7 linked regions of the Homo sapiens genome follow. The protein of the gene in region 1 purifies or fractionates together with the protein of each later gene. This does not show direct contact. Each region holds a gene or a part of one and is shown in the gene's direction. Other genes may lie near its edges.

The links.
Region 2: the proteins of TBCA (region 1) and PPA2 fractionate together in Homo sapiens (co-fractionation; one large-scale study listed by BioGRID). This does not show direct contact.
Region 3: the proteins of TBCA (region 1) and MTPN purify together in Homo sapiens (affinity purification with mass spectrometry, with the first as the bait; one large-scale study listed by BioGRID). This does not show direct contact.
Region 4: the proteins of TBCA (region 1) and GDPGP1 fractionate together in Homo sapiens (co-fractionation; one large-scale study listed by BioGRID). This does not show direct contact.
Region 5: the proteins of TBCA (region 1) and LACTB2 fractionate together in Homo sapiens (co-fractionation; one large-scale study listed by BioGRID). This does not show direct contact.
Region 6: the proteins of TBCA (region 1) and GUK1 fractionate together in Homo sapiens (co-fractionation; one large-scale study listed by BioGRID). This does not show direct contact.
Region 7: the proteins of TBCA (region 1) and TXNDC12 fractionate together in Homo sapiens (co-fractionation; one large-scale study listed by BioGRID). This does not show direct contact.

What each region holds. Positions count from the first base shown.
Region 1 is NC_000005.10:77,690,666-77,693,502, reverse strand, and holds the end of TBCA (tubulin-specific chaperone A), read left to right. Parts: intron 1-150; coding exon 151-237; coding exon of another isoform or gene 238-381; exon of another isoform or gene 382-2,004; coding exon 2,005-2,085; 3' UTR 2,086-2,337; downstream 2,338-2,837. UniProt on the Homo sapiens protein: Tubulin-folding protein; involved in the early step of the tubulin folding pathway.
Region 2 is NC_000004.12:105,471,263-105,475,535, reverse strand, and holds the start of PPA2 (inorganic pyrophosphatase 2, mitochondrial isoform 1 precursor), read left to right. Parts: upstream 1-1,473; 5' UTR 1,474-1,485; coding exon 1,486-1,642; intron 1,643-4,273.
Region 3 is NC_000007.14:135,967,360-135,970,859, reverse strand, and holds part of MTPN (myotrophin), read left to right. Parts: intron 1-3,500. UniProt on the Homo sapiens protein: Promotes dimerization of NF-kappa-B subunits and regulates NF-kappa-B transcription factor activity. Plays a role in the regulation of the growth of actin filaments.
Region 4 is NC_000015.10:90,240,709-90,244,208, forward strand, and holds part of GDPGP1 (GDP-D-glucose phosphorylase 1), read left to right. Parts: intron 1-191; 5' UTR 192-200; coding exon 201-1,358; 3' UTR 1,359-3,500. UniProt on the Homo sapiens protein: Specific and highly efficient GDP-D-glucose phosphorylase regulating the levels of GDP-D-glucose in cells.
Region 5 is NC_000008.11:70,641,686-70,645,185, reverse strand, and holds part of LACTB2 (endoribonuclease LACTB2), read left to right. Parts: intron 1-942; coding exon 943-1,121; intron 1,122-3,500.
Region 6 is NC_000001.11:228,139,139-228,143,078, forward strand, and holds the start of GUK1 (guanylate kinase), read left to right. Parts: upstream 1-1,140; 5' UTR 1,141-1,164; coding exon 1,165-1,225; exon of another isoform or gene 1,226-2,495; coding exon of another isoform or gene 2,496-2,691; intron 2,692-3,940. UniProt on the Homo sapiens protein: Catalyzes the phosphorylation of GMP to GDP. Essential enzyme for recycling GMP and indirectly, cyclic GMP (cGMP). Involved in the cGMP metabolism in photoreceptors. It may also have a role in the survival and growth progression of some tumors.
Region 7 is NC_000001.11:52,041,692-52,045,191, reverse strand, and holds part of TXNDC12 (thioredoxin domain-containing protein 12 precursor), read left to right. Parts: intron 1-3,500. UniProt on the Homo sapiens protein: Protein-disulfide reductase of the endoplasmic reticulum that promotes disulfide bond formation in client proteins through its thiol-disulfide oxidase activity.

The sequences.
Region 1 (2,837 bases):
TAAATACAATTTAAGTTAAAATATTGAACCATTTAACATAACCATAACTTTTTTCTGATTCCTCTTAATAAGGATATACTTACCAAGATATGAGCTAAACACCTACAAGTTCTGCCATCTTTGAACGTCTCACAGAGATTCTCATTCTAGGCAGAGATCCTACAAGAATCCAGGATGATGATCCCAGATTGCCAGCGCAGGTTGGAAGCCGCATATTTGGATCTTCAACGGATACTAGTAAGCAAAGACTTCTGTGTCATGTTTAAATTTTTTTTTTCAATCCAATACATGGAAAGCCAAAAGTTTAAATATTTAACACTGAGAACTAGTTGGCAGTATTTCTTATTCACTTGCCCTTTATACCGCTATATTTTAAAATAATTAATGGAGTTTAAATTGTGTTTTGAATTATGCCTCCAGTAAAAGTACTGTTTTCTAGCATGTTTGTTCAGTTTATTAAAATTTAGCTAGTTAAATTTATTTAAGTTATGATAGTACCAGTATTGTCCAGCAATGTCTTGATTATTTGGTTTTCATACATAAAGATCTTTTGAGACATTGAGGATGAGTTGACTGATTAAAATTTTAAAAGATCTAATGTTTCAAAAGAATTTGGGATCTTATTAAAAGGATCTTGAATTCTTTCACATTCAAACCTAGATCAGTTTGAGAGGGGGAAAAAACCTGGTAATCTATGTAGTCCCCTCATACTAACTTGGAGCTGAATAACACTTATACTTGCTGGTATAAATGCCTTGTGATACAGAAGGTAGATAAAGCAGGAAATAATAACTGTTAAAATACTATCTAAGACAGGAAGCATCATTTGTATTTCTTGACAGTTTAAATGCTTTTTTCTCTCATGAATCTAGTAGCTGAGAAAGTAATAGAAATTGCTTGGAAAAAAATAATGTTGGCCGCCAGGTGCAGTGGCTCATGCCTGTAATCCCAGCACTTTGGGAGGCTGAGGTGGGTGGATCACGAGTCAGGAGTTCAAGACCAGCCTGACCAACATGGTGAAATCCTGTCTCTACTAAAAATACCAAAATAATAATAATAATAATAATGTATTTGGATGATATATTTGTATGTGAAGATGTATTCAACAATATCTCTGCCCTTGAAGAGCTTGTATTTACTAACAGAGAACAAAGATGTGTTTAAGGTATAACATGGAGGTTTAAGAAATTCTTACGTATAGTTTGAGCTAAGCAAATTCTCAGTCGTTTTGCTTTCAGTTTTCATATTAAATACACACATACTTTATTTCCTCTACTGTTTGTATATCTCCATCTTTTATTGACCTGACATAAATTGCTAACCATAGCTTCATTTAAAAATCAAACAAAATTTCCTGTGTACTTTAGATAATATTATTTCATTTGTCTGTTATCATTACAATATATTAGTAAAAGTTGCCTGTATATCAGTATTATGGAAAAACTCAATCTTTAAATATCAGAAAATGAAAGATGTATTTTGTTTCCTTTAGTGTAGGGTATGTAATACCCATTAGCAAGCAGGCAATTCATTTGTTTAATTCAAAGATTATATTTAACTCTGTTGTGACATCAGAAGCCTTCTTTGTCATTGTGAATAGTCAGTGGATTATTTTGGCCTGAATGCTGTCATATATGTAACATGTTAGTAAATCTTCCTTTTTACTTTTCTCTTTTGTATGATGATGATGGGTCAACAAAATGAGAATAAACTTTTTCTGAGGTTTTTATTTAATTAATGCTGGTAGCTTTAGAAGACTGTTATTCACTTATTTTATGAGAATATATACAGTGAAACAAAACCACCAGTTATTTCTTCCTTTCCTTGTAAAGAAGGAACAGAATGTGGGAAACCTGTGGAATTACAATATATTTAGATGAGGCTTGGGATTTTTTACTTTTAATTTTTTAGTTATTAACATTAATGGTTTGTAATATTTGAGTAAATAACAAAGTACTGAAACTTGAAAAGGATAAACTTAATTTTTATTGTATTTCATTTTAGGAAAATGAAAAAGACTTGGAAGAAGCTGAGGAATATAAAGAAGCACGTTTAGTACTGGATTCAGTGAAGTTAGAAGCCTGAAACTTTTCTCGTATGGGGTGGTTTTTGCATTAAATCCTGGGGTCCATTTTACAATCCATTATTTTTGACCACTGCTATGTGTTCAAGTAGTATGAGAATGTGATTGTTTTTATCTGGTTACATATATATTTCTTTGTCTAATTTAATATGTCAAATAAATGAGTTCATCTAATAAAATTGTTTATTTTATACTTTACAAAATTTTTAAATTAACCTTTTATCATTAAACCACATAGACTTTATGACAGAGAACTATAATCTGTTAGGTTCTATTCGAAGTCTACATATTTTGCTTCACAAGCATGGATTGAGTTTTAAAAAATAGAATACCATTTTTTCAAATAACAATCCAAATTTTAGTTGGGTGTAGTGGTACATATCTGTATTCCCAACTACTGGGGAGGCTGAGGTGGGAGGATTGCTTGAGCCCAGTAGTATGAGGATGCAGTAAGGTATGATTATGCCAATGTACTCCAGCCTACGGAACATAGCAAGACCCTATCTCTAAAAGATTGAATTGTAAGCAGTTTATTTGGAATAGAATACAACTGATATAAAAGGAAGAACTCTCTTTGGGGAAGGTCTCACATAATAAGGCCTTCACAGTGAAACTCTAACATTTCCATGACTATAAATGAATGAGAAACATTTAAATCTTTTTCGAGGACAGATTCACACAGAAAACACCCCCAACCATTTAGATCTTCAAATAAGATTCTTATGAACAATGAAGAGTTGAATGGTATTTTGAA
Region 2 (4,273 bases), on another chromosome or scaffold:
CCCAAAGTGCTAGAATTACAAGCATGAGCCACCACGCCCAGCCTGGATACTTTAAGTATCCACAGATCATTAGAAATTAGCCTACAACCCTGCCTCCATAGGAATTTGTCTTATTTAAATATCTAATCTTCAAAAGTTAATAGAAAAATTAAGCTTTTTTTCAACATAAACAAAAAAATTATACAACTCTGTGATATATGCACAGAAGAGATTTTCTCTCCTTTTTATGGGAGCATTTGCCTTATAGTTATGCCTATTCAAGTTGACACATTACAAAGGTACCACTGTTGACAAAAACATTTTAGGATCTATAATCTTAGTAGAGTGTCTCTAAGTAGCTAGTCACAATATCTCCTAGGAATCCTTTCTGGAACTTGGGTAGACCAGTATCTCAATTTTAATGATCACACGATAATTGGAGATGCTGAAAGAACCTGGGTGCCCAGTAGGAAAGTAGCCTAGATGATGATAGTCCCAAAGAAGATGGACTAGAAAAAAATAAAATGACACGTGGCAGACTACTGGTTGTTCTACAATATCCATTCTCCTGGATACTGGCCCAAACCATCCTCCTATCTCAGCCTCCCAAGTAGCTGGAACTACAGGCGTGTGTGCCACCCCGCCTGGCCGATGCGCGGTGGCTCACGCCTGTAATCCCAGGACTTTGGGAGGCCAACGCAGGCGGATCAATGGAGGTCGGGAGTTCGAGACCAGTCTGACCAACATGGGGAAACTGTCTCTACTAAAAATACAAAAATTAGCTAGGCGTCGTGACGCATGCCTGTAATCCCAGTTACTCAGGAGGCTAAGGCAGGAGAATAGCTTGAACCCAGGAGGCGGAGGTTGCAGTGAGCCGAGATTGTACCATTGCATTCCAGCCCAGGCAACAGTGTGAGACTCCGTCTCAAAAACAAAACAACAACAAAAAATAATAAAATAAAAGAAAGAATAAATAATCTCTACTGGGTTAGGAAATGGCCTTATGGAGAAGATGGCATTTGAGTAAGCTACTTAGGGTTTTTTGCTCTGTAAGTCGGTGTCAACGTCCCGTTTTCACGTGGTGGCCTGATCATTTTGTCTTATAGTGATGTCTTTGCGTGCATGTGCGCTCATCTCCTATATTGGACAGGGTCTAGAGCAGTTCCTGGCACAGAGTAATCACTCAATATTACATCACTATACTAAAAAATCATGATAGTAATTCTTGACGGGATAAATGAAGGCATGAATAAATGTATGAATTAACGAGTGGCAGTGAGCTCTTCAGGGGTGGTGGGTCTTGTCTCACTCGTCTTTGAGCTGCGGCCTCGCTGAGGGCATAGTGCGCACAACTGGCTGGTGTTCCAGATTCCACTGGCAGGGACCAGGATCGCAGCCCGAGCGCCGGGGCGGGAGGGATGACTCCGGACGGTAGGGGGCACCGGCGTGCGGCCCGGCCGAGCCCCCAGGTAGCTCCGCGCGCACAGCAGGACCGTCATTGACGCCATGAGCGCGCTGCTGCGGCTGCTGCGCACGGGTGCCCCAGCCGCTGCGTGCCTGCGGTTGGGGACCAGTGCAGGGACCGGGTCGCGCCGTGCTATGGCCCTGTACCACACTGAGGAGCGCGGCCAGCCCTGCTCGCAGAATTACCGCCTCTTCTTTAGTAAGTAGCTCCCGGAGGTTCGCCGAGCGGCGCACCGGAGAAACCTGGGTGGGGGATGGAATGGGGGACACTTGGGACGCCCCGCGCGGTCTCCCTTCTCTCTTTTTGGGGCCCTCAGCGGTAGCCGCGCGGTCCAGGCCACCTTACTTCCCGCGGGAGCGCGCACCGAGTCACGAGAACTGCCAGCGAGGAGGCGGCGGATCAAGACCCCAAAGCGGAGAGCAGAGGCGCAGGGCTGCCGGCTGGGGGGTAGATAGCGCCCTGTGCCCTGCCAGCCGCCCTCCCCGAGGGGTAGGCAGAGTGCAAGCGGCCACCCCGCGGCGGCCTGCAGCCATTAGCCGGCCCGGCCGCCGTTCCCGGTTCACACAACTCAGTGAGGAAGGGAAGGCAGAGCCCGCCCACACGCCGGCCTTCCTAGAGGCGTAAGAAACCTCCTACTGCGGGAGCTCCCTGACGTCGGAGAGGCAGGCGGAACTTTGCGGATGCCTAATCCAGCGCGTCTTCTTTTTTTGGAGGGACTCTGATGAAGGTTCTTTCCCCAGAAGCTTGACTTGGTACGCACAAGTTTACACCCTGAGTGTGATCCACCATCCAAAGCCTCGTTGGTTCCGGAGCAGCCCCTTTTCCTCCCCAAGCTGAACAAGCCCAGAAGGCTAAGCGACTTCGGGGGGGTCCCTGAGTTGCCGAGCTCAGAGAAAGGACCCAGGTCTTCGTGACTCATTGTTCCGTGTACCCCATTGTTTCACTGTGTACGTTAACCGTAACAGAAAATAGCGATGTCGGTCGCTTGCCTTCACTCCCCACTGACTGCAGAGCCTTGGAGTGGTAGTATCAAAGTGGGCCTTGCATTATCGCTCCCCTTTTCGGAGCACTGGCTCTGGAGGCTTTCAGTTCTAAGCAGGCCCTCGAGTTCTTCACGTCTTAACTCTGTGACCCCGGACGAGTTTAAGTTGCTAAGCCTTGTTTTTTCTCATCCGTAAAATAGGGCTGCAAGTATTACATGACATTATATATGTAAACTGATTAGTCACAGGGCCTAAAATATAAATTACTATTGTTAATACCGATAATCATTATAGATATTTGTAATTTATGAGAGATTTGCAGTTATGCTACATGAGTTTAGGGTCGAGGATTATTTTGTGGGAAAGAAGAGTTTGCCTAAAGTCGTGTGATTATAATGCAACTAGTACTAGAATTTCTATTTTCTTCAAAATTGGTTGCAGTTTTCACCCTATGCCACATATTTTCTTCTATCTTTGGTTAAGACTGATCAGGTGAACAGGAAGTCTCAAATTTCTGAATGGATTATGTTCTAAAAGGTTACCATGTGATGATTAATGGGAATAGTCAGAAAAAATTATGAAGTGGCAGTTCGCTTTTTAAGCAGATTGAAAAAAGGCCTGTCTACTGCAAGTATTCTAGATTTGCAATAAGTACGGTAATTAATAGATACCCAAATAATAAATATTTATGAAGTGTGCTAGACACTGTTAGGCATAGTACAGAGATTCACAATATTACTATAATTATGGAAAAAGTAAATACACTGGTTGAGCAAAAACAGGCTTGAGAAGCCAGGAGCGCACAGAGTAGTTGACCCAGTACCGGATTTGGAATGGGGAGTCCTAGGCCATAATCTTGGCTCTGCCGTTAACTCGCTGTGTGCTGTTGGGTGGGTGGTTACTTCAGTTCTTTCTCACAGAGCCAGTTTCTTCAGCTGTAAAATGAAGCTTTTGACCTTGAAACGATGATCCTCAAGGTCCTTCTCAGCACTGGTATTCCCTGAAGGCATTGGATGAATAACGGAGATTCTAACAGTCTCTGTTAAGACAGGATGTCGAATGGGGGCATTTTTGGGAGTATGTTGGCCTCTTATTGTTGGTTTGTTTCTTTAGCTGCAAATGTACTTAGGACTCATGATTTTTCTGTAACTAGAGTGCCACAAATAAAATACGTTTTTCATTCAGTTGGATAAACAGGGCAGGAAAGAAGAAAACCCGATTTTACTAAGGTAAATGGGCAAAAACTGGAAGAAAGGGGAGTGTGGTTTTGGAGAGGGTCCCGATGGTAAGATCCTGATTGGAAGGTGTGTTGGTTAAACAATTTCTGAACTAACCGCCAGATGGCATCACTGGCCAGGACTGTTTACTACCTGCTAGAAGGGGTAGGGCAAAGTGAAACGAAGCCACTCTAGGGCGAATGGGGTAAGGGGAAAGCAACGAATAAATTGCCCTTTATAAAGATGATCACAGATTGGATATTTATTACTCAGTGTGTCTGTATGCAGTACTAGGGTGGACTAATGTCTCACTTCAAAAAAAATATGAGTGTAGTATACTTGGCCTAAAATTGTTACTCAGTGTTACTAAAGTGTAATCATTTTCCACATCTCCAAATATATTCCAAGTCTCTGAAATACTAGTGCATTGGGAGGTAGAACATTTTCGAGCTTCATGTCTGTAAATGGTTTCTCTTTACTGTCATTCAGTAAAATCAGAATAAATGATTGATGTAATACTTAAAAAAAAATTGGTGTTAAACTTTGTAGAAAGAGTGAGACAGGATGATTAGGGGAAAGGGTATCCTGATGGGAATCATCAGGCCTCCTTGGTGCCAGCCCTGACCCTG
Region 3 (3,500 bases), on another chromosome or scaffold:
ATGTCAGCTTGTATAAGATACAGGTGCCCTCAGTAGACAGAGAAACATTAGTATAGATTCTTTTCTAATTATTAATGCTTTTAGTCATTTTAAAAAATATATAAAATAGAGGAAGATCTTTTTTTACATTGGAACATAAATGTTCATTCAGATGTACATAGGCTATATAAAGTGTTTTGGTTTGAGATTCTAAACATTTTCCTTTTATTAGTGCAGATAATTAAAAATTTAATGAATTAAAACTGATAGAAATTATAACAATATTATGAGCTTGTTATTTAAAAAAGCAAAGCTGTATTGAATAAAGTAAAATATCCCATTGACTATTTTTCCTACCTATGTGGTTCCTCTCTTTAAAATATAAAATTGATTAGGTGTTTTTAAAACAGAAAAGAATAAAGAAGACAAAAATTGGCCAAAATTTTACTATTTAGATAACTCCTAACTTTTAAAAAGTAAAATTAAATTAATTCAGATGTGGATTTTAAAATGCCACAGTTAGGACTGAAAGGTAAAGATCTCCCCTCCCCAATGCCTGTGAACAAATCAGCCATTCTCAACAGGTCCATGTAATTAATTTCAGAAAAACATTGAAAATTTACTTACTCATCTGTTTTTCCCGCTTAAAAAGTTCTGTAAACACTTCTGCACTTTGCTTTCCACATTGAAATGTATTTATTCTTCCCTTTTTAAATGGTGAATAGTATTCCATTTTCTGGATGTTTATTTAACTATTCCCGTATGATAAACATTTTGTTTCCAGTGCATCTTTGCAATTAAACAGGATTGTCGTGATCACCTTTGTACATATACCTTGACAACTTTTGAGACTATATCTGCATTACTCTCTTCATGAGTTTCGTCAGCTTAGGCACACATTGGCAGACATGAGACCGATGGTTCCCTCACACCATCAACAGCACTGGGCATCATCAGACTTTTTAGATTTTGCCATTTGGATAGGTGAAAAATGATTGTTTATGTCTTTTGTTTATTTTTCTTTTAGTTGGTCTGTTTTTTATTGGTTTGTATAAACTCTATAAATTAGGGAAATCAGTTTTTTATCATGTTTTGCAAATATCGTTCCCAGTTAATCTCTTGACTTCATTTATTTTCTTATTCTACAATGGTCTTTTACTTTTTGTGGGGTTAAATGTATCGCTTTTTTTCTCTTTTGTGACTTGGATTTTGTATCCTGTTTACAAAGACCTTTTCTCTTCTGTAAAATTACAAATAAATTTGCTCTTCTGGAACTTCATTTTTTCTTCCATTTTGGACATTTGACCTTTCCATTATTTATTTTGAAGTAAGGCATGAAATAAGTGTATACTTTTTTTTTGACAGTTCTCATACCATTTATTATTATAGTTCCTCTTTTTTTTTTTGCACGTTAAGTGGTATATATTATAACAGATATTAGGAAAATGCAAATTAAATCCACAATGAGATACTACATTATAACTATTAGAATGGCTAAATTGGTAAGACTGAGAAGCTCTAAGGTGAAATGTTCAATAAATCATATTTAAAACTTCTTATCTGTATTAAGTAAATATTATTTTGTTTAATATTTTTTCTAGTAATTTCTGACATTCTTTTTTTTTTCTTTTTTTTTTTTTTTATTATACTTTAAGTTTTAGGGTACATGTGCACATTGTGCAGGTTAGTTGCATATGTATACATGTGCCATGCTGGTGCGCTGCACCCACTAACTCGTCATCTAGCATTAGGTATATCTCCCAATGCTATCCCTCCCTCCTCCCCCCCCCCCACCCCACAACAGTCCCCAGAGTGTGATAATCCCCATCGCAAGAACAAAAAACCAAACACCACATATTCTCACTCATAGGTGGGAATTGAACAATGTAGTTCCTCTTTACTAATAATTTGAACCATCATCTTTATCATAAACAGATTTCTTGCTCTTTTTCTATCTATACCAAACTGATTTAATGATGTGTGGTTTCAAAATAGGTTTTAGTATCTCCCTCTCACATTCTCTTTAGGATTTTTGCAGGTGATTCCTTAAAATTTTTTTTCCCATAATCTCAAGAAAAATATTAGGATGATTTGAACCTACCTAAAACTTAACCTGTATCTTTTAATAAGCATTAAGCTTTTTTTTTTTTTTTCTGGAATGCTGGGATCGTGTGATCTGTGGGACATAATACTTTAACTTTTAATTCTTTATGAATCATCTTAGGAGGATGTCATGCACTGTGAGAATGTGCCATATCAAAGATTCAAAACAGAGGAAGTGTGTTTAGATAATCAAATCACAGCAAAATTGGTGATGAAAGTTAGTTTATGGTATTACATCACAGGCCACCTTGTAATAAGAAAAATGGCTGAAAGTAATTTTTTTGCAGCTATATCTTTACTAAATAATTCTGATAAGCTTAGAAGCTTGATTTTTTTTTTCAGTCCACAGAAAATTACCAGTGTAAAGAGGAGCTGTGATTACTGAAAGAAAAGAAACCAAAATGTAAGAAGCTGACCCAAGAAAGTGAAGGGCAAAGAGCCATATTTACCTTAAAGTTTCAGAGGCCTCAGGCAATAATTAATATGTATAAGCGTAACCTTGAGCTTCACGAAAAGTTTAAACTTGGTTACTTTTCTCTTATTTACAAAGTCAGAGACATGTATAACATATTTTAGGAAGATTTCAATTTGACATATAAAAAAGAATGAGCATTTTGATACTTAGGCCTAAAGTAAGTATCTGAAAAATACTGAAAAATGGAGGTATTAAAAAAAAATTGTAGGCCAGGCATGATGACTCATGTCTGTAATCCCAGCATTTTGGGAGGCCAAGGCAGGAGGATCTATCACTTGAGCCCAGGAGTTCAAGACCAGCCTGGGCAACATAGCAAGACTTCCATCTCAACCACAAAAAAATTGTAGGTAGTAAACACTTTAAACATAGTACAATAGACGCTCATTATGGCACTGTCCTTTAGGGATTTGGAATTGCATTATTGGTGAAACCATAGCATAGAGGCTAAATGTGTTGGCTTTGGAATTAGATCTTCCAGGTCTGGCCTTCTTACTAACTAGACACTTTGGGTGAATTAAGCACTCAGAACTTGAGTTTCTTCAATTGGTGAAAATGGGAATGATTGTAATACCTACATAATAAGTGTAAACTGTGTACCATTGTGCCTGGCATATGGTGAGTGCTAGTAAATATTAGCTGTTGTTACTAATCAGCATCCTCATAAATTTGTTTAGAAGCAAGATTACTTACAGAGCAACTAGTCCAGCTCCCTTATTTTATAGATAAGGAAAAATTAAGTGTGAAAGCCCTTGACCAGTATCATAGTGCTATTTGAGATTGAAATTTAAATTCAGTTTTCCTGAACTTGGATGAGGGTTGGTTGGTTGGTTTTCCGCTACACCATTGTGTTTGCTAATGAAGTCATCTTGTGCTAGCTGTTACCTCTAATAAATTATTCTTTTTGTCCCACAACATCTGCTTGGCAAATTTCTTCTTCTTCCTG
Region 4 (3,500 bases), on another chromosome or scaffold:
AGGCTGAGGCGGGAGAACCGCTTGAACCCAGGAGGCGGAGGTTACAGTGAACCAAGATCACTGCCACTGCACTCCAGCCTGGGTGACAGAGTGAGACTCCATCTCAAAAAAAAAAATAAATAAATAAATACAATGACAATCTCTGGAGGTGGGTTACCATCATGTGTTTTCATCTTTTATGACTATTTCAGGTCAGCTCTATGGCTCTTCCACATGATTCAAACGAAACTTCCTATTTGCTGCCTCCCAACAATGAGGACTGGGGCAGGCAAACCATTCCTGACTTTGTTTATGGGCAGAAGGATCTCATGGCAGAAGGGATTCAGTGGCCAAGGAATGCACCTGGCATCCCAGATGCTCTGCCACAATCTCCCTTTGATGCTGCACTCTGCTCTGCCTGGAAGCAGCGGGTGGAGCTGGGGCTGTTTCGCTACCGTCTACGGGAGCTACAGACCCAAATCCTCCCTGGTGCTGTGGGTTTCGTGGCTCAGCTGAATGTGGAGCGTGGTGTGCAGAGGAGGCCCCCGCAGACCATCAAGAGTGTGAGGCAGGCATTTGACCCTGTACAGTTCAACTTCAACAAGATCCGGCCCGGAGAAGTCCTCTTCCGTTTGCACCGGGAGCCTGATCTCCCTGGGACTCTGCTGCAAGAAGACATCCTGGTGGTGATCAACGTCAGCCCCCTGGAGTGGGGCCACGTGCTGCTGGTGCCTGAGCCTGCCCGCCAGCTCCCCCAGCGCCTGCTGCCGGGTGCACTGAGGGCAGGGATTGAGGCTGTGCTGCTGAGCTTACACCCGGGCTTCCGTGTCGGCTTCAACAGCCTGGGAGGCTTGGCCTCGGTGAACCACCTCCACCTGCATGGCTATTACCTGGCCCACAGACTGCCCGTGGAGCAGGCGCCAAGCGAGCCCCTGGACCCTGGAGGCCATTTGCATCTGCTCCAGGACCTCCCAGCTCCTGGCTTCCTCTTTTACACTCGTGGGCCAGGGCCTGACTTGGAGTCCTTGATAAGCAGGGTATGTCGGGCCACTGATTATCTGACTGACCATGAGATTGCTCATAACTTGTTTGTCACCCGGGGAGCTCCGCCGGGAAAGACATCACCTTCCTCAGCCCTCACAGGGGTCCGAGTAATTCTGTGGGCCCGGAAGTCCAGCTTTGGGATAAAGGACGGTGAAGCTTTCAATGTTGCCCTCTGTGAGCTGGCTGGGCACCTCCCTGTCAAAACATCCCAGGACTTCAGCAGCCTGACAGAGGCAGCTGCTGTGGCCCTCATTCAGGACTGTCGGCTGCCCCCATCCCAGGCAGAAGACGTACAGGCAGCACTGGTGGCCCTGATGTCCCAGGAAGAGCAATAATACTTCTGGATGTATTTATGTTCTTTTTTTCTTTTCTTTTGAGATAGGGTCTCACTCTGTCCCCAGGCTAGAGTGTAGTGGTATGATCCTGGCTCACTGTAGCCTCCACCTCTGGGGCTGAAGTGATCCTCCCACCTCAGCCTCTTGAGTAGCTGAGACTATAGGCGTGCACCACCACACACCTGGCTTTTTTTTTTTTTTTTTTTTTTTTTAACGATTAGGTGATTTTGTATTTTTTTATATAGACAGCGTTTCACCATGTTGCCCAGGCTGGTCTTGAACTCTTGGGCTGAAGCAGTCCTCCCACCTCGGCCTCCCAAAGTACTGAGATGACAGGAGTGAGCCCCTGGATTCTTTTCTGTTTCTTTTTTTTTTTTTTTTTTTTTTTTTTTTTTTGAGATAGTCTCGCTCTGTCACCTAGGTTGGGGTGCACTGGTACAATCTCGGCTCACTGCAACCTCCACCTCTAGGGTTCGAGTGATCCTCCTGGCTCAGCCTCCCGAGTAGCTGGGACTATACAGGCTCCTGCCACCAAACCCGGCTAATTTTTTTGTATTTTTAAAAGAGAAGGGGTTTCACCACATTGGCTAGGCTGGTCTTGAACTCCTGACTTTAGGTGATCCGCCCGCCTCGGCCTCCCAAAGTGCTGGGATTACAGGCGTGAGCCACCACACCCAGCCAGGATGTATTCATTTTCTACCTGATGAGTCCCTTTCCAGAGCACTGTCCATCATAGTCCTTTGGACATTTATTTTCATGGCTGCCTTCTCACCTGTCTCAGCCTAAGAAGAAGGATGAAGAAAGCTGATAATGATCTCTTAAAGGGGAGAAAGATAATGGTCTCTTTAAAGGGGAGCTGATAGTGGTCTCTTTAAAGGGGAGAAAATCTGGAATAATTCTACTGAGTAAGACATCATGAATGTATCTGCTACCTCTCCCCGTTCTTGTTCAAGCCCCAGGGGTGTTAAAAAGGAGTGTGTGTGACAGTTACACACTCCTGACTTTACATTTAGATTTTGTCTTCCTTTGATATCAAATGTTAGCACGGTAATAGTGCCTGTGCCTCCAGTATTGAGCTGCCACTTCTGTTCTCAGCCTGTTTATTCCCCTTTGCTCACCACTTATTTTTATTGCTTTGTCCCTTCTTTCCATTTAGCCCTGCTCCACCCAAATGCCCCACTCCTTCACTTTCCCTGCCACCTTGAGCTTTCCTCTAGCCCCCAACACCAAGTTGAATGCTCTTCACTGACATCATCTGATGTAAAAACACAGTGTTGTCACAACTTTCCGGGTGCACGTCTTTTTTTGTTTTGTTTTTTTGTAAGGCTGGGGTGCAGTGGTGCAATCACAGCTCACTGCAGACCCAAACTCTTGGTCTCAAGCCACCCTCCCACCTCAGCCCCCTGAGTAGCTGGGACGATAGGTGTGCACCATCACACCTGGCTAATTTTTAAATTTTTTGTAGAGATAGGGTCTTGCTATGTTGCCCGGGTTGCTGTCAAACTCCTGGCCTTAAGAAATCCTCCCACCTCGGCCTCCCAGAGTGCTAAGATGCCACCACACCTTGGTGCAGGTTTTTTTTTTTTTTTTTTTTTTTTTTTTTTGACACAGGGTCACTGTCACCCAGGCTGGAGTGCAGTGGTATGAAGACAGCTAACTGCAAGCTTCAACCTCCTGGGCTCAAACAATACTCCCATCTCAGCCTCCCTAGTAGCTGGGACCACAGGCATGCGCCACCACACCCGGCTATTTTTTTGGAGAGATAGCATCTTGCCAAGTTGCCCAGGCTGGTCTCGAACTCCTGGCCTCAAGATCCTCCCACCTCAGCCTCCCAAAGTGCTGAGATTATAGGCATGAGCCACTGCACCTGGCCTGAGTTTTTTTTTTTTTTTCTTGAATCAGAGTTTCACTCTGTTGCCCAGGCTGGAGTGCAGTGGTGTGATCTCGGCTCACTGCGTCTCTGCCTCCTGGGTTCAAGCAATTCAGCCTGAGTCTTCTTAATACCCCCATTCAAAACGGGATGGAGACTGACAGTTTGTACTTTGTTCAAGGTCAGGCAGCTGGAGTCGGGACTGCAGCACAGGCAGGTACCAGAAGATGAGCTGGGACAATGTGTGCTTGTGACCGCCTCTCCAGTCAGTG
Region 5 (3,500 bases), on another chromosome or scaffold:
CAGGAACATGCCACCACGCTTCAGCCTGGGTGAGAACAGCTTGGAAAACATAACAAGACCTTGATATATCTCAAAAATAAATAAACATATATGTATATATGTGTATATGTGTGTGTGTGTGTATATATATATATAAAATGATGTAAACATATAATGATGTAGGAAAATACAATATAGTAAGTTAAGATTTCAAAAATCAGGTATTAAAACAATATCAGTTTTGTTTTTAAAATATATAAATATGCATAGAAAATCAAAAAGTATATATTCTGTAATAATAAAAGCTCTCCCTCTGAGGAATAGAAATGATTGTTGATGTTCATTTCTTTTAAACACTTTACTTTTCTATTTTCCAAATTTGTTATAATCAGTGCTTATTATTTATAAAGTAAGAAAAATGGTAGGAGGCCAGATGAGGTGGCTAATGCCTGTAATCCCAGCACTTTGGGAGGCCGAGGTGGTAGGATTGCTTGAGTCTAAGAGTTCAAGACCAGCCTGGTCAATATTGTGAGATCCTGTCTCTACAAAAAATAAAAATAAAAATAAATTAGCCAGGCTTGGTGGCCCACACCTGTGGTTCCAGCTACTCAGGAGGCTGAGGTGGGAGGGTCACTTGGGCCCAGAAGATTGAGCCTGCAGTGACCTGTGATCCTGCCTCTGCACTGCAGCCTGGGCAACAGAGTGAGACCCTGTCTCAAAAAAAGAAAAGAAAAAGGGTGGGAAAAGTATTAAATTTTACTTCAGAGTGAGAATCTTGGTTTAGTTAAAGGAGAGAATTTTCTAATGATAATTTTCAGTGGGTTCAAGAAAAGAAAAAGCAGCTTTTTAACTCATCTGTTTATTTGTGTCTAAAGATAAGGATACAGAATAATTTACTTCTCAAAATTTCTTCTAAGCTCGAGTTCATAATTGTTATTATTCCTTATTTCTTCTTTCAACCAGAGTTCTATATACCCCTGGCCACACTGATGATCACATGGCTCTACTCTTAGAAGAGGAAAATGCTATCTTTTCTGGAGATTGCATCCTAGGGGAAGGAACAACGGTATTTGAAGACCTCTATGATTATATGAACTCTTTAAAAGAGTTATTGAAAATCAAAGCTGATATTATATATCCAGGTGGGTAATTTTTAAATTTTTTTATATTTTTATGTTTTTAAATAGAGACAAGGTCTTGCTATGTTTTCCAGGCTGTTCTCAAACTCCTGACCTCAAGCAGTCCTCCCACCTCAACCTCCCAAAGCGCTGGGTATACAGGCATGCCAAAGTGGGTAGTTTTTCAAACCTAGCAAACCATTTGTGTCAAATGATGAGGAAGGTTCATTTTGGCTTGTCTCTGTATGTATTTGGCCTTGAAGAGATAACATATAAGGCCAGGCTCAGTGGCTCACACCTGTAATCCCAGCACTTTGGGATGCCAAGGTGGGCAGATCATGAGGTCAGGAGTTCAAGACCAGCCTGGCCAACATGGTGAAACCCCATCTCTACTAAAAATAAAAAAATTAGCTGAGTGTGGTGGCGCACACTTGTAATCCCAGCTACTTGGGAGGCTGAGACAGGAGAATCGCTTGAACCTGGGAGGTGGAAGTTGCAGTCAGCAGAGATTGCACCACTGCATGCCAGCCTGGGTGACAGAAGCAAGACTCTGTCTGGGGGAAAAAAAAAACATATCAACTACTTCTTTAAAATATACCCCTCTTTGAGAGGCCTAGGTGGGCAGATCACCTGAGGTCAGGAGTTCGAGATCAGCCTGGCCAACATGGTGAAACCCTGTCTCTACTAATAATACAAAAATTACCCAGGCGTGGTGGCAGGTACCTATAATCCCAGCTACGCGGGAGGCTGAGGCAGGAGAGTTGCTTGAACCTGAGAGGTGGAGGTTGTAGTGAGCCAAGATCCGCCATTGTACTCCAGCCTGGGCAACAGAGCGAAACTCTGTCTCAAAAAAAAAAAAAAAAAAAAAAAAAAAAAAAAAGGAAAATACACCCCTAAGTCCTGTCTAGCTGTGCAGTTAAACTTAAAGAGAAGGCCAAGAGCCATATTAATAACTTTTGATAAAGATATGAGGGTTATTTTTCAACATACAGTTATTAATAGAACTGTTAAAAAGACATAAACTTACATTGAAATGGGAAAATGTTTTCATTCCATAAACCACTGTTATTTTTGTTAACTTGATTTTTATTTGGACCACATTTTAGCTGTGTAACTTTGGGTAATGTTTGACCTCTGAGCTTTAGTTTTTTTAATTTACAATATTGAAATACCAATAGCTTCTATATCAACTATAAAATGGTATCTTTATTTCCATTCTCCAGAAAAAGAAACATGTTAGTGTCTCAGATCTCACTAGACTGTTCTACAATATCAATCTCTCCTTCATCTGAAGAGCTAAGAAATGGCCAGGCGCAGTGGCTCACGCCTGTAATCCCAGCTCTTTGGGAGGCCAAGGCAGGCAGATCACCTGAGGTCAGGACTTCAAGACCAGCCTGGCCAATATGGCAAAACCCCATCCCTACTAAAAATACAAAAATTAGCCAAGCGTCTTGGTGGGCACCTGTAATCCCAGCTTCTCAAGAGGCTGAGGCAGGAAAATCACTTGAACCTGGGAGGCAGAGGTTGTAGTGAGCAGAGATCACGCAACAGAGTGAGACTCCTTCTCAAAAAAAAAAAAAAAAAGCTAAGAAAGACACAGGACCCAATAAAAAGGCCCAAAAGGAAAAAGGGACTAGGTCACTTAACTTCCTAAGTTCTTCTAACTTGCGATTAACCAAGCCATTGAAAGATCCGTCCATCCAGTATCTTCAACACATTTACACTCTGCGATGAGTTCCTACTGCTGGGGGAATAGAAAACATACGGTAGAGCTGGGCATTTAGATTTATATGATGACATTAAAGGATTGCGGGCTGATAGCTTTGGGGGGGTTTGTTTGTTTGTTTTGCTTTGTTTTTGCTAAAGACAGCTATTTTTAAAGCGAAGAGGGCAGACGTTGAGTGAATTCACATTCAAGCTAAGCTAATGAGAGGCTACCTAGTAAAGATTCTAGAGTGCTTTAGTGAATCCAGTGAACTGGCTTACTAGCACAGCAGTTGTTTATATGTAAATTATGCTCTGTAGCCATAGCTACCATATATTAAAGTCTTCTAGCCATCAGGTTTTGTGCAGGGGCCTTTACAGTTGTCATCCTCACCAAAACCCATGTAAAGTAGGTAGTGGTTTCCTCACCACACAGCAGAAGAAACAGCTTAGAGAGATTCAGATACTTCCTCATTTATTAGCCACACAGCAAATAAATGATAGGTCTGTGTCTAACCAGATCCCGTAATAGGTTAGCCTGCTTCTGGATATTTTGTTCTCAAATATTTAAGAACATCATTCTTGCAGACTTATATAATATATAATATTAATGTGTACTGTCTTAAAGGGGAAGTAAATTATAGTATAACTTAATCTGGGTTGTCAAAATTTCTGACATACAGAAGCCTATACATAGGA
Region 6 (3,940 bases), on another chromosome or scaffold:
ACTGCACCCAGCCTTCAATAAATCTTTTTTAAAAATTTAAAATAATTTTTAGAAATAGAGTCCCGTGGCCAGGTGCAGTGGCTCACGCCTGTAATCCCAGCACTTTGGGAGGCCAAGGTTGGTGGATTACCTGAGGTTAGGAGTTCAAGACCAGCCTGGCCAACATGGTGAAACCCTGTCTCTACTAAAAATACAAAAATTAGCTGGGCGTGGTGGCGGGCGCCTGTAATCCCAGCTACTCGGGAGGCTGAGGCAGGAGAATCGCTTGAACCTAGGAGGCCCAGGTTGCAGTGAGCAGAGATGGCGTCACTGAACTCCAGCCTGGGTGACAAGAGCGAAACTCCGTCTCAAAAAATAAAAAAAGAAAGAAATAGGGTCTCGCTCTGTCACACAGACTGGAGTGCAGTGACACGAACACCGCTCACTGCAGCCTCGACTGCCCAGGCTCAAGCGACCGTCCCACGTCAGCCTCCCGAGTAGCAAGGACTACAGGCACAAAAAAGTTTTTAAATTTTTTGGTACAGAAGGGGTTTCCCTATGATCCCCAGGCTGGTCTCCAATTCCTGGCCTCAAGCGGTCCTCCCGGCTCGGACTCCCAAAGAGCTGGGATCACAGACGTGAACCACGCGCCCGGCCACATTCCCCAATTAATGGTTTTTGGAGAGTGGCCGGTTTGGAACGGGCTAGCGGAGTCGTTCGTTAGTTAGGTCCCTGCAGTGTAGATGGAGGACGGAAACGGCGCTGTGACATAAGCGGGAGGAGGCGGGCTGAGGCAGCGCTGTGACGTAGCAGATGAAAGCCGGGCCCGCGCTGCACTGAGGTACTTCTCTGAGTGACAAGCGGGACAAGTACGCCGTGGGCGGGGCCGGCGGGTCGTGATGTTAGTTCGCGCTGTGTGGAGGCGGGCCGGCGTGGCGCTGTGACGCAGCGGGAGAAGACGGGCTGGGAGGGCGCTGTGCTGAACGCCCCTGCGGTCGCGACAGGCCAGCGCAGGTGGAGGCGGGGCTAGCGAGGCACTGAGGTAAGTACTTCCCTAAGGGGCGGGGAAGAACGAGTGAGACATGGGCGGGGCAGTCGCCTCATGACGTCAGTCTCGCGCGCGGGCGGAGGTGGGCCGGTGCGGCGCTGTCACGTAGGTTCAGTGGGCGGAAGAGGTGGCCCCGGATGCTGCGGCGCCCGCTGGCCGGGCTGGCTGCGGCCGCCCTGGGCCGGGCCCCACCGGACGGTGAGTACGACAAGCGCGATCGCGAGGGTGACTCGGGTCGAGGCGGCAGCGGTCCCTGCGCTTTGCGGTCGCCCAGTCCACGCCGCCTCCGGATCTCCTCCTAGCCGAGACGCCCTGTGCCGCATTCAACTGTGGGCCCTGAGAACGGGGGAGCTCTGGAGGGCGGACGGGCTGGCAACGCAGCGGAGCCCGGGTCCCGGAGGGCGGGGCGCTCCTCAGGAGCTGGGCAGGCCGGCAGTTATCGCAGTGTCGAGCTGCTCCCCGGGCGTATAGGAGCGCTCGGTGTCTTCCCGACACCTGGGCGCGCCGCCAAAGAGAGCAGCTGGGAGTCCCTACCGCTGGCCCGGCGCGGTGTGCGCTCCGGTTCCCACCTCACCCTGCAAGCCTTGGGGTCCTGGGCGGATGGAGCCGGCTATTCCGGGGCTCCCAGGATTCTGCCTACTCCGCGGCACGGCGCAGAGACGGGGACTTGGGGAAACAGCAGGCCTTCCCGACGCATGGGTGTGGCATTTGGGGTTCGGATTCTCCAAAGCCAGAGTCCGGGTTGGGGTTCTTGAAGCTGCCCTGCTGCCATTCTTGAGCGTCGCCTTAGAAGTATGCCCCAGTAAGGACTGGTGTGGGAAGCAGGTGCCTCAAAGTTGATTTTGACCCTGCGTGTGGTGGGCCTCGGTTTCGTCTTTGCATGAAAGAGGTCGGTCCTGAGGCCCCGGGCTGGGTCCTGCTCTGCTGTCTTTGGGCTCATGGCCCCTTCCTGTCTCAGGCTTGCTCTGCTCTTTACCTGGGGTTGCTGTCGAGGACCCTGTGCAAGACTCGGCCGGTTTTTCTTTCTCCCTGATGGACAGACCCAAACATAGCCGCGCAGCATCGTGAAGGGCTGGGGCCTTCACTCCTCTGTGGCTCTGGAAGAGCCCGATTTCCTCAGGAGGTAAAGGAATGTTCCTGTCCCCCCCGGGGAAAGAAAGTGAAAATGAAAGCGCCCTGGCTGCTCCTGGTGTGGTCCCATTTAAAACGAGGTTGCTGAAGGCCAGGATGCGTGCTACCCGGATGTGTGCCCAGAAACCCTGCAGCCAAGAGCAGCCGCCTGGACCACCAGCCTCCCCTTCATCCACCTGGCCCAGCCCAGAGCCCAGGCCCACGTCTGGTGGTTTGTGTCTTACGAGAGGCCAGGCGGGGGCTGAATTCTCTCGGTTCTCAGAAGGTCAAGCCCTCTGTTAGCATCTCCTCGAACAGTGGGCCGGGGGCAAGGTGGTGACTCTGTTCAGTCCTTAGGATGGCTGGAAGCCAGAAGGAGGAGATTATGCCGCCACAGCAGGGAGTGCCTTTCCAGGAAAGCGGCTGCTGGGGCAGCATGGGAGCCCAGTCCAGGGAGCGTTCTGGCAGAGACCATTCCGGAACATGGATCTGCGCCGGCGGCTCCCAGGAGACCTTCCATCTCGGAGCTCCTGTGGAGACCACGTGCCTGGCAGGTCCTTACAGTTGTGGGTTGTGTGGCTTCTTGCCAGGCAGCTGATTGGAGTTTGCGACTGTGGGTTGGTGAGAGTGGAGAGCACAGAATGTTTGCTGGAATGCTTCCCTCTGCCCACAGGAAGACACCTTTGGCGCATGTGTTCTGGTCAGGGCAAAGGCTCCGTGGTTTCCACCGCAAGATTGCAGGAGCCTTGAGGCCTGGGCCACAGTTTTCTCCCTTGGGTGTGCTCCATGGAAGGTGGCTTTGGTGACCGCCCTGCCACTGGTCTCTCCCCAGGCAGGCAGGCAGCCTGTGCCTCCGCCCTGTCTCCAGCGGTGGTGGTGTGGCTGTGCTTCTGCAAGGCCCGCATCCACTCACTGTCTGCCCTCTGCACTCTCTGGCTGGCCAGGGCCCCCAGTAGTCTGCTCATTGTGCCCTCACGCTTGGGCAGAGCCGAACTCAGGGGACCCAGGAAGAGCGGAGTGTTGGCCCGTCCAGAGTTCTTGGCAATTGGTGTGTCATGTGTGCCTCGTGCCCTGTGCTGGGCGAGAGTGGGCACAGCTGCGCAGACAACGCCCTTGGCGAGGCTGGAGCCTGGACCCCTGCCTGGCAGCAGCTGGGTGAACTGGTGTCTTCTGCCTGCGGGCCCAGCCTCACCTCAATAGCTTACTGCTCCCTCAGGAGGGAGGAGGGGAGGCCTGGGAGCCTGGGCTTGGCGGGGTAAGGGTGGTGCAGGGGCAACACCTGTGGAGGAAACAGGCGGGGTTGGGGCCCACCAGCGTCTGCTGTCTGCTCTGTGCTGGGTTGCATCTGTTGGTGTCTGATCGTTGTCAGGGCCCTGTGGTGAAGAGACACACCTGCCACTTGCTGCTTGCGAGGAAAGGGGGAGATCCCCAACCCAGGAGCCAGAGGTGGGACTCCAGCACCCCCCATTCCTGGGAGTTGGAAGTGAGGCACGAGCTCCCCAATTCCTGGGCATCGGGGATGGGGTTTGGGGCCGAGGAGGGGATGGAGACCAGGGTCTTGTGGTAGTTTGGTGGGATCCTCAGAAGGTGTGGCTCTCCCCCTTCTGAGGACGCAAAAACTCCCAGAGTTTTTGGCGATTGATGTGCCACGTGTGCCTTGTGCCCTGTGCTGGGCGAGTGTAGGCACAGCTGTGCAGACGACGCCCTTGGCAAGGCTGGAGCCTGGACCCCTGCCTGGCAGCAGCTGGGCGAACTGGTGTCTTCTGCCTGTGGGCCCAGCTTCACTTCACTAGCTTAGCGCTC
Region 7 (3,500 bases), on another chromosome or scaffold:
TGTCATGTAATTGGAATTATGTAGTATATAGCCTTTTCAAATTGCTCTTTCCACTTAGTATATGTTTAAGGTTCTTCAATGTCTTTTCGTGGCTTGATTACTCCTTTCCTTTTATCACTGCATATTCATTCACTTTGTATTTCAACAAAACTGTATTTTTAATTTCTAGAAGTTCTGTTTGATGACTTCACAGATTTGACTTTCTTTTTTTTTTTTTGAGACAGAGTCTTGCTCTGTCACCCAGGCTGGAGTGTGGTGGCGTGATCTCAACTCACTGTAAACTCTGCCTGCCAGGTTCAAGCAATTCTCCTACTTCAGCCTCCCAAGTAGCTGGGACTATTGGCTTGCACCACGGCACCTGGCTAACTTTTTTGTATTGTAGTAGAGACAGGGTTTCACCATGTTGCCCAGGATGGTCTCGAACTCCTGAGCTCAGGCAATCCATCCACGTCGGCCTCCCAAAGTGCTAGGATTACAGACATGAGCCACCACACCTGGCCAGATTTGACTATTTATTTTGCATGCTGCATGCCTGTTTTTGTGATTCCATGTGTTATTTCTTTAAACATTTCATGCATAGCTATTTCTGTATTTTGTGGCTGATAATTCTAATATCTGAATTCCTCAGGGATCAAAATCTGTTTGTTGCTTGTGTTCTTGTGGCGACTTCTTTTCTCACATTTTTGGTGATCCATGATTGTGAGCTCATAATGGTTGTTCTTCTTCATTGGCTATCCTGGAAGCCTAAAGTGGAGAATCTTTTCCTCCAGAAAGTTTTGGCATTTGATTCATCTGAAAACCAGGGGGTACCACTCACGTGGAATCACTTTAGTCTCTTTTGAGGGTTGTGTTAATGTGGGAGTTTCAGATTCATCTCCATTTTGCCACATCATAATGGACGCTTGCGTTCAGGGCAGCCTCACTTGCTTGTTGCTCATAGGTTTTAGCTTGCTTTGTGTTTATGGAGGGTTCTGTCATTACTGAGTCTAGTGAGCACATTCTGAAAGTCCATTTTATCTAGGATTTCATTGTTTTGTAGGTGTATATCCCTTCAGACTGTCTGGTTGGGCATCTTGCCAAAGCAGGATTCAGTTGCCTGAGTTTAGATATTGACCAATAGAGTGATGGTGATCATGTTAGACACCTTGCAGTTCTCCTGGGCATCCTCTCAATTTCATTCTCAATCACTCACTCTTCAGAGTCAAATCTTGAGCCTTAGGCAAGTGACAGCATCCCATGCTGTTGGGAATGAAAAGTGAGGATGGTTAGTTTCGATACTGCCTGCATGTGCTCATCTGGATGACCTTTTGTTTCCCTGTGGTAGCACTGATGAAAATTAGATTTGAATTTATTTCTGAGAAAGAAAAATCTGAAAGATGAGTGTAGTAAACCAGAATGGCACACGATTGCAATTTAAATCTCAGCTTGGCCATTTAGCAGTTATGTGACCAGTACAGGTGATGTAACTTCTCTGAGCCTCAGAAGTCTCAATCGTATAGAATAACAAAAGCTACTACTTACTGATCATTTATAATATGCTAAGCACTATGCTAAGTTTTTTGCATATATTTCTTATTTAATATTCAGTAACCTTATGAGATATAATTATTTTATGCCTCTTTTAAAGATGAGAAAACAAGCATACAGAGATTAAGTAAAACTGGGTTATTAATAAGGCCAAATTTAAATGAGATAACACATGTGGTATGTCAGGCACATATAAGGTGGTCAGTAAACAGCAGCTAGCATTATGATCACTAATAATTTTTGGATATAAAATTCTTTTTGTGATATGATCTAAATAAGATTCATTTGCTCAACAAATATTTTATGGAGCACTTACTGTGGCCATGTGTACTGCTAAATGCTAAGGAAACAGAGAGGAATAAGAAAGATATGGTCCAGAGATGGACACATAAACATTTACAAGTCAGCCTGGGGAGTGCTGTGATGGGGTAAGAATAGGGTGCTTTGGGAGTCAGGGAAGATATACCAGAAGAAATGCCCTCTAGGCTTATACCTGAAGAATGAGTTGGAGGTGAGGGACGGAAGGAATTGCACAGGTAGTAGTGATTGTGAAAGCCTGGAGGGGAGAGAGTGCGTGCTACTCTCATTTAAAGAAGTGAAAGGGCCGGGTGCGGTGGCTCATGCCTGTAATCCCAGCACTTTGGAAGGCTGAGGAGGCTGGCAGATCACCTGAGCTCAGGAGTTCGAGACCAGGCTGGCCAACATGGCGAAACCCTCTCTCTACTAAAAATACAAAAATTACAGTCCGGGCACAGTGGCTCATGCCTGTAATCCCAGCAGTTTGGGAGGCTGAGGCGGGCAGATCACCTGAGGTCGGGAGTTCAAGACCAGCCTGACCAATATGGAGAAACCCTGTCTTTACAAAAAATACAGAATTAGCCAGGCTTGGTGGCACATGCCTGTAATCCCAGCTACTTGGGAGACTGAGGCAGGAGAATCGCTTGAACCCAGGAGGTGGAGGTTGCGGTGAGCCGAGATCATGCCATTGCACTCCAGCCTGGGCAACAAGAGCAAAACTCCATCTCCAAAAAAAAAAATTAGCCAGTCGTGGTGGCAGGCGCTTGTAATTCCAGCTACTCAGGAGGCTGAGGCAAAAGAATCGCTTGAACCTGGGAGGTGGAGGTTGCAGTGAGCCAAGATCATACCACTTTATTCTAGCCTGGGTGACAGAGAGACTCTATCTCAAAAAAAAAAAAAAAAGTGAAAGTATAGTATAGGGTGTATATATAAGATTTTAGGAAAAATGTGGAAAGTGAGGCTGGAGAGGTGGGCAGGTGCCATATTCTGAAAGGCTTTGTAAACCCTACTGCAAGAGTTGGACCTTTATCTTTAGGGCATTGGAAAGCCTTTGAAAGTTTTTTTGTTTTTGTTTTTTGTTTTTTTCCTGGAGTAACATGATTTAGAAAGACCATTCTGTGCTATTCTACAAAACATGTTCAAGAGTTTCAAAAAATAAAATAGGAAGATTACTCTGGGTGAATTGTGGGAATAATAATAACAATAGCTTTAAATACTTACTTCATTTAATCCTTATACTAACACTTGGAGGTAGGTCTTATTGTCTTGCTTTTACAGATGAAGGAGGAAAATAAGAAAGAAATTGGGACTTGGAGAGCTTACTTCACTCACAAGAATTCACACACGTAATAGGAAGTGGAGTCATGGACCTAGGTCTTTCTGAATCTAAAGCTGTATTGCTGAATCACCTTCAATTGGTTATGATTTGTTATGACCTGCTTTATGTTTACTCTGTGGGAAATTCTCGTTCATTCTTACAGTATTATTAGCATATTCCGTGATAGTTTACAAAGCATTTAACGTCATTTTTAAATTTAGCCTCCTTTGAAACTGTGAATTAGGTGGTGGTGTCTCCATTTTGCAGGTATGAAAACTGAGGCTTGAGGTATGGTCCCATACACCTAGAAGGTGGTGGAGCTGGGACTTGAACACCAAGCTCTTGACAGAAGAAAACC